Linked DNA regions of Homo sapiens: region 2 is linked to region 1. Evidence: fine-mapped expression QTL. A gene starts in region 1. The other region holds a variant in brackets. All regions are shown on one strand. Distances are from middle to middle.

Region 1 (4,397 bases):
AAGCTTTTTTTTTTAAAGTGATCAAAACACAGTAAGTCACAGGAATTACCTTGATAAAACATTAAGAAAAATTTTAGGATAGTTACTAAAAAGTAAAGAAAAACCTTTTGTAATATGATTGTTTTTCTTTATTGGAACTCTATTTAGATAACCTGGAAGACAAACTCAATGAAAAGAATACTTGGATTTAGGCTGGGCGCGGTGGCTCACGCCTGTACTTCCAGCACTTTGGGAGGCCGAGGTGGGCGGATCATGAGGTCAAGACATCGAGACCATCCTGGCCAACATGGTGAAACCCCGTCTCTACTAAAAATACAAAAATCAGCTGGGCGTGGTGGTGCGCACCTGTAGTCCCAGCTCCTTGGGAGATGGAGGCAGGAGAATCGCTTGAACCTGGGAGGCGGAGGTTGCAGTGAGCTGAGATGATGCCACTGTACTGCAGCCTGGAGACAGAGCGAGAAAAAAAAAAAGGATACTTGGATTTAATTAAAATACAGGAAGAGTGTGTCCAGAGTTATGAGTGTACACTATATTTTTGAGGAAAGTAAACAAGGAAACTTGTATCTTAAGCAGGACAATAAATATGTCTCAGTAACAGCATCAAAAGTGCCCTGGTTATAGGAAATAATTTAGCTATATCGAGAAAAGCCAAGACTACAGAATCAAGTTATATTGGAGGAAAATGGTTTTGTTCCAGAGCTTTAAGATAAACATTTTAGCATCAGGCCACACCAGAGTTAGAACCAGAGAAAAAGATTACAGAAGGCCGGGCACAGTAGCTCACGCCTGTAATCCCAGCACTTTGGGAGGCCGAGGTGGGCAGATCACGAGGTCAGGAGATCGAGACCATCCTGGCTAACACGATGAAACCCCGTCTCTACTAAAAATACAAAAAATTAGCCGGGCGTGGTGGCGGGCGCCTGTAGTCCCAGCTACTCGGGAGGCTGAGGCAGGAGAATGGCGTGAACCTGGGAGGCGGAGCTTGCAGTGAGCCTAGATCGCGGCACTGCACTCCAGCCTGGGTGACACAGCAAGACTCCATCTCAAAAAAAAAAAAAAAAATTACAGAAGTTGGCTGGGCATGGTGACTCATGCCTGCAATCCCAGCACTTCGGGAGGCCGAGGCGGGTGGATCAGCTGAGGTCAGGAGTTTAAGACCAGGCTGGCTAGAATGATGAAACTCTGTCTCTACTAAAAATACAAAAATTAGCTGGGCACGGCGGCGAATGCCTCTAATCCCAGCTACTCGGAGGCTGAGGCAGGAGAATCACTTGAACCTGGGAGGCGGAGGTTGCAGTAAGCGGAGATCTTGCCACTGCACTCCAGCCTGGGTGACAAGAGCAAAATTTCATCTCAAAAAAAAAAAAAAAAAAAAAAGTCAAAGATTACAGAAGTTGACAAAAAGGTTGAAGGAGAGGATTATCATTTCAACCAAGAAAAACATGTATCTTTTTAAGGGTATAAAGAACGAACAACAACGATTCATGACTTGGGAATCATGTGCAGCGAGGTATAGCACAAGTAGAATTTTTTGAGATATAAATTTGAGAAGTTTTAGAAAAGAAATAGATTGTAGAATTTAAAATCAAAAGCTCTTGTAATTCACTAAGAGCAAATTTATACTTTAAGACAATGTTATTTTAACATAGAGGACCAAAATCTCAATCTTTAGAAACACTTATAACTTTTTTTTGATTATAGCCAACTTAATCACATATACATTTAAAAAAATTTTAAAGAACTTTATTATAATTTCTTTTTTTTTTTTTTTTTTTTTTGAGATGGAGTCTGTTGCCCAGGCTGGAGTACAGTGTCACTATCTTGGCTCACTGCAAACTCCGCATTCCAGGTTCAAGTGATTCTCCCGCCTCAGCCTCCCGAGTAGCTGGGACTACAGGCATGCGCCACCATACCTGGCTACTTTTTGTATTTTTAGTAGAGATGAGGTTTCACCATTTTGGCTGTGCTGGTCTCGAACTCCTGACCTTGTGATCCGCCCACTTCAGCCTCCCAAAGTGCTGGGATTACAGGCATGAGTCACCACGCCAGGCCTATTATGATTTCTGTAGACTATTTATGACATGTTTGAACTTTTGTTTTGCCCTACCCTTTCTCTTTTATAATTAACCTGTCATTTTGCTTTAGGAAAATAATTTACCATGTAATAAATTATTATCATGCAGTGGCATGATCAGCTCATCGTAACCTCAACTCCTGGGCACAAGCAATCCTCCCTTCTCAGCTTCCTGAGTGGCCAGGACTACAGGTAAGTGCCACCATGCCAGACTAATTTTCAAAATTTTTGTAGAGACAGTATCTCACTGTGTTGTAGAGACAGTGTCTCACTATGTTGCTTAGGCTTGTCTTGAACTCCTGATCTCAAATGATCCACCTGCCTTGGCCTCCTAAAGCATTAGGATAACAGTCATGAACCACTGTGCCCAGCTTTTTTAAAAATTTAATATATATATATTTTTTAAATGGAGATGAGATCTCATTATGTTGCCCAGGCTGGTCTCAAACTCCTGAGCTCAAGTGATTCTCCCACCTTAGGGTCCCAAAGTGCTAGGATTACACACATGAGCCACCATGCCTGGCCTGTGCTCAGTTTTTTAAGTTTTTTTCTATTAACCATTTTTATAGCCTGTGAATGTCAGATATTTACCTAAGCAAGAAATTTAAAGTTAAATACATGGGTATTTTGTTGATAACTCAGAAGGTTTAGCTGTATTTCTTAAACCAACAATATTAAATTAGTCTTACTTATAAAAAAAATCACACAAAGATTATTTTGGTTTTGGCTGGGTTCATAGTTTTTTACCTTTGTGCCAAATCCTGACCCTGTAAAATATTTAATAAGACAAGTATAAATCTGACCATAAATCTAGGCAAATATGTATGTTGACAATTTTGAAGACATTTTAATATTTATTTTACTAATAATTTTAAAGCCAGTTTATTTATTAAAGAATTACTTAAGTCATGTGAACTTGGAAAACCTTTGGGCTTACTAATTTATGAGTGCTCATTTATCTATAAGTCAATTGGGTATCATGTAGATACAACATATAACATATTACATGTATATATGTAAACACATCTAAACACACATATATATGCACAAATAGAGATCTTATACCTTTATTTTTTGATTTGTCTTTTGAAACAGGGCCTCACTCTGTTGCCCAGGGTAGAGAGCAGTGGTATGACCATGGCTCACTGCAGCCTGGACCTCCCAGGCTCAAGTGATTCTCCCACCTCAGCCTCCTGAGTACCTGGGACTACAGGTGCGTGCCGCCATGCCCAGCTAACTTAAAAAAGTTTTTTTTTTGTAGAGTCAGAGTCTCACTATGTTGCCAGGGCTGGTCTTGAGCTCCTGGGCGCAAATGATCCTCCTACCTTGGCCTCCCAAAGTGCTGGGACTGCTGGCATGAGTCACCTCATCTGGCCCTTATAGTTTTCATTTTAGAATTTTAGTCATGAGATAGTAATACAAACTCACCAGTTTATAAAAGATAGTTGGATCTAAATTATTTTTGGAAAAAATTGGGACCTGTTAGTTCACATGGCTAAATTTTATTTGTCCCAATAGGTAATCTAATGAAGGCTGTGAGCCAAAATTTTTGGGTAAGGTAGTTCGATGGCAGTTTTATTTTAAAAATCTTTTATCCTTTTATTCAGTTTCAAATGAGTTTAGAGTTAGGTTTTTAATGTTAACATTTTAGCTTGAACTGGCTGAATCGTATAAGAAAAACAAAATTTCTAAGTCTTCTTAAGTTAGTAATACTATAAACAGTGAGCTTTATCTCAACACAAGTAGAAAAGTCAGTAGTTTCAAAGTAGGCAGAAAAAATATATAGAGGTAGACAGAGAACTTAGACGATCCTACATGTTAACTCTGTAGTTCTGGGTGGACCACTTGAGTTCTAATCTGTCTATTATTTTAAGATGTGCACAACAATGGGCCATAATATGTATCTAGCTGGAGTCTCAGAAAACCCAGTATGTCTTTTTTTATTTTTCCGAGACAGAGTTTCACTCTGTTGCCCAGGCTGGAGTGCAGTGGCATGATCACAGCTCATTGCAACCTCTCTCTCCTGGTCTCAAGTGATCCCCCAACTTCAGCCTCCCTAATAGCTGGGACTACAGGTGCATACCACCGTGCCTGGCTAATTTTTGCATTTTTTGGGTAGAGATGGGGTTTTGCCATGTTGCCCAGGCTGGTCTCAAACTCCTAGACTCAAGTGTTCTTCCCACCTCAGCATCCCAAAGTGCTGGGATTACAGGCGTGAGCCACTGTGCTTGGCCTGGCATGTCTTAATGTTTGAGAATCTCATTTTTAAAATATTAATCTCTCAGTTTAGAAAAACTGTTGGATTCGTATTTTTATGATCTCA
Region 2 (4,397 bases), 21 kb after region 1:
TTCTATTGATTTGTCTGCCTATTCACCTACCTGTACTTAGTAGTATGGTTTAGCATTTTGGTACAACTTATCAATGATATGATGGTGGCCTTTGGATTATAATATTTAACATTTTATTTTAGCAAAGTGTTTGTGTATTTTCATAATTCTAGATGCCTTATGGTCCTTCTAATATCTTCTCTCCAGAGGACTGTATGCTGTTCTTAAGGACTCTCTGCTTCCTGGACAAGCTCAAGCTAAGGTGAGTACCATCTTCTTAAATGCAAGGATCTTAGATTTGAGTCAAGAAGTGTCTGCTGGGAATGATCTGATCACTCCTTGTTCTGTTGGTCAGGTCCATGGGTTTCCCCAGGGGCAGAAACTGTGTCTTCCTAGTATGTTGCACAATTCCTGGTGCAGAGAAACACTCAGTAAATGTGTGTTGAGGATGAACTGATGAATGAGGACATGAACACCTGCCTGCCACAGAAGTCTTTCATGCATGGGTGTTCCTGGAGGCTCCTCTGGCTTCACAGGAAGGGACAGAACTGGGAAATTATTCCTGGGGTCCTGTCCCAGCTCCTTGTCTATTCTTCTGTCCAAGAGAGGAACACAGAGCGAGGAAGGGCAATGAATCCCACTTACCCTTCTCCCATCTCACACACATCCAGAGGCACGATCCTAGCTCACTTCAACCTTGACCTCTGAGCTCAAGTGATCCTCCCTACTCAGCCTCCCGAGTAGCTAGGATTACAGGCACGCACCACCACACCCAGATAATTTTTTGTAGAGACAGGGTCTCACTAAGTTGCCTAAGCTCAGTCTTGAACTTCTGGCCTCAAGGGATCCCCCTACCTTGGGCTCTTTACCAGCATTTTCTTGTATTTCTCCTCATCTTCAATAGCATTCAACTGAAACATCACCCACGTTCATCATCTCTCCCTTTTCTACACCATGGCCTTGAGTAAAGCAAGTGAGATAGCAAGGGAGATACGAATCAGAACAGCTAACCATAACAGCTGACTCTTATATACTGTTTAGCATATGCCAGTTTCGTTTTCCACCAATGTAATAATTGAACACTTAGAACAAGTGGGGATATATATATATATATATATATATATGTATAACACATATATATATAAAACCATATATTATATATATAATCATACCCATTGTACAAGTGAGAAAACTGAGTTAACAGAGAGGTTTAGTAACTTGCCCAGGGCCGTGGAGCTTTTAAATAGATTCAGCGCTAGAGTCCATGCACTTAAACACCATACCTTTCCTTGTAATATGCATGTGCGTGTGTTAACTTCATTGAAGTAAAATATAAAATGCAGAAAAGTGCACAAGTCGAAAGCATACGACTCAGCAGATTTTCATAAAGTGAGCACACCCATGTACTAGCACCCAGATGAAAGAGCAGAGCACTCTCAGCCCTCCAGGAGTTCCAGTCATCTCCCTCCCCAGTCACTGCCCCCTCCTCCCTAAGGTTAACTGCTCTTCTGACGTCTCTCTCCATTCTTCTGGGAGTTTCCTTCCCATCCTATTTTAATCCACTCATATTTTAAGCATCATGGGGTTTGTGGCTAAAGTTAGAAATATTCTATATATTCCATCTTGCAGTAGAGGTGGCAGTGGTTGGGAGAACACATTTCCTAGAGAAGAGAAACAATTGAGGATGGGGGGTTTAGGGGGTACTTGCTTTAGTTTCCCCACATTCTCTTTGCCAGTAAACCTAAGTAAGCTTCAAACCTTGACTCCATCCCCTCCCCACCAGGACTACATCTCCCAGCAGGCTGTGCTCTGACAGCTCTTGGATTTAAATAGGATTCTGGGCTCTGCTCAGAGTCAGGCTGCTGCTCAGCACCCAGGACGGAGAGGAGCAGAGAAGCAGCAGAAGCAGCCAAGAGCTGGAGCCAGACCAGGAACCTGAGCCAGAGCTGGGGTTGAAGCTGGAGCAGCAGCAAAAGCAACAGCAGCTACAGAAGTTGGAACGATGCTGGTCACCTTGGGACTGCTCACCTCCTTCTTCTCGTTCCTGTATATGGTAGCTCCATCCATCAGGTTTGTCTTAATTCAGCAACTCAAACAATCGTTTACAAAGACCTGCACTGGAAGCCGGTTCTCAGCTGCTGAAAGAAGAGAAAGGGAAGGAGGCTGACAGAGGAGAAAGTCAGGGCAGGAAAAGCAGGAAGGAAGGGGGTGTTGTGGATACCATGGTGGAAAACCAGAAGGAAGCATCTGCGGCCGGGCAGAGGTGGGGCTGAGTTCTGGCCCCACCTGAGCTCTGGGGAGAGTTCTACTGCCAGCGGAAGGCTGCATGGATGACTCTGTCAAGTAGCTCAACAAACACCTTAGGTGGGAGTCCTTGCGTTTTCATTTTATTCCTTTGGGTGTCTCTGAAGAACTCGGAGACTCTGTCCCTATTCAGGGTGGCCCTGCTGGCTTGTCATGCTGTTAAGTACCAGGTAGTTTGGGAAAGAAACAAACTCTTCTGCCTTTGAGACTACCCTCAATTAATGTTTTGGGATGGCTTTTTTGCTGTGGGATTTCTAGAGGTGTCAAATAAA[A/T]GTGTGTTCTGAGTGGAGAATTTTTAAATTTCTCTTTTTTAATTTTTGCTCTGTCACCCCAGGGTGGAGTGCATTGGTGTAGTCATAGGTCACTGCAGCCTTGAACTCTTGGGCTCAAGCAACCCTCCTGCCTCAGCCTCCCAAGTAGTTGGGAATATAGGCAGGTGCCACTACACCCAGCTACTTTTTAAATTTTTTGTGGAGATGGGGGTCTCACTATGTTGCCCAGGCTGGTCTCAAACTCCTGGGCTTAAGCGACCATCCCACGTTGGCCTCCCAAGATGTTGGGATTACAGGCATGAGCCACTGGGCTCAGCCTAAAAAATTTCTTATGATAAAGGAGGTTAAATGGACCTACCAAGGACAGTGTTATTCTAGGTTCTCCATAGAGATCTGGGTTCAAGTCCCACTTCTGCCACCACTATGTGACATGAACCTCCCTGAGCCTCAGTTTTCTCTACTGTAATGTGGAAATAATACTGGAGAAGTTGAGAGGATTAAAATAAATTACATATGGAAAGTGCCTAGACTAGTAATTGGCAGTCAGATGATGTGCAGGAAATGTTAGTTCTGCCCCTCCGTATTCTGTTTTAGGACCTGTGAAGTCAACTTCATGTAAAAGAGTGCTCTCTGCACAGAGGTCTGAACAAAGGAGGTTTTCTCTCTGTTTGCCATCGGCCAGAATGAAATCTCTAATACAATGGCTGAAAGCCTCGGAAATGACCCACTCCCTAAAACTGGAGAGGCAGCCTAAGATCAGTACCTGTGTATGCCATCCCCCAGAGTGCTAAGAGCAGTACCTGTGTGTGCCACCCCCCACAGAGTGCTGTTCATCAGTTACTCATGATGATGGTTACTGAATATTGACTCCGCTAATGTTTATCATGCATATGTTTTGAATGTAGGTTAGAGGGGAAAGCTTTCCTCTGGAACCTCTAGAGATAAGAGCTAGATGTATTTATTATCTAACAAGGAAAGTCTCCATTGGCCCTGACTCCAGCATTTACTCTGTTTGCTAATATGATTATTTGTGGCTTCTGGGCAAGTGATCTTCCCACCTGCACCGATAAACAGGCGACTACCTTGCCCCATGGAAAAATGTTGTCCTATGAAGGTTAGCTTTTATGAGTCTCCTGACTGCAACTTAAAGATACCCTTCTTTGAGGCTGGATAGAGTTTTTTTTTTTTTTTTTAACGTATCTTAGTGTGAGCTCGTGAAGGATGGTACGTGATGCTCTTGTTTCCCTTGCCGATAGGAAGTTCTTTGCTGGTGGAGTGTGTAGAACAAATGTGCAGCTTCCTGGCAAGGTAGTGGTGATCACTGGCGCCAACACGGGCATTGGCAAGGAGACGGCCAGAGAGCTCGCTAGCCGAGGTAAGTGTTTCCCCTTTAGTCTCCAAAGGGCCATGCCTCCCACCCTTCTTCCCACTGGGGCCTCTGTCCATATTGCTTTGTGTTTCCTCCTAGGCTTGGGGGCTCTGACTAGAAATTCAAGGAACCTGGGATTCAAGTCCAACTGTGACACCAACTTACACTGTGGCCTCCAATAAACTGCTTCTTTCCTATTCCCTCTCTATTAAATAAAATAAGGAAAACGATGTCTGTGTATAGCCAAGTCAGTTATTCTAAAAGGAGATACTAAGTGACATTAAATATCAGAATGTAAAACCTGGGAACCAGGTTCCCAGCCTGGGATTAAACTGACAGCAAGAAGACTGAACAGTACTACTGTGAAAAGCCCGAAGTGGCAATATGTTCACTCTACCGTTGAAGGATGGCTGGGAGAATGAATGCTCTGTCCCCCAGTCCCAAGCTCACTTACTATACCTCCTTTATAGCCT

Which allele goes with the higher level. Alleles are on the strand shown, and positions count from the first base shown. SD is a standard deviation of normalised expression in the study named.
In carriers of allele A in region 2, the expression in prefrontal cortex of the gene that starts at base 2,217 in region 1 tends to be lower than with T alone (small effect, 0.28 SD a copy in ROSMAP).

The links. PIP is the estimated chance that this variant, and not a neighbour inherited with it, causes the effect. A credible set is the group of variants that fine-mapping cannot tell apart.
Region 2: its variant is the best candidate, but not a certain one, in a credible set for the expression of RDH12 in prefrontal cortex (ROSMAP, PIP 0.70).

The regions. Positions count from the first base shown.
Region 1 is chr14:67,699,670-67,704,066 of GRCh38, forward strand. It overlaps RDH12 (retinol dehydrogenase 12), which reads left to right and starts at 2,217. Exons shown (of 9, transcript NM_152443.3): 1 at 2,217-2,266. It also overlaps a transcript of GPHN not described here.
Region 2 is chr14:67,720,662-67,725,058 of GRCh38, forward strand. It overlaps RDH12 (retinol dehydrogenase 12), which reads left to right. Exons shown (of 9, transcript NM_152443.3): 2 at 187-241; 3 at 1,763-2,049; 4 at 3,812-3,930. The coding sequence starts at 1,982. It also overlaps a transcript of GPHN not described here. Among named protein-coding and RNA genes, the nearest start is that of RDH12, 21 kb to the left of the region's middle. The variant A/T (reference allele first, on the strand shown) is at 2,556.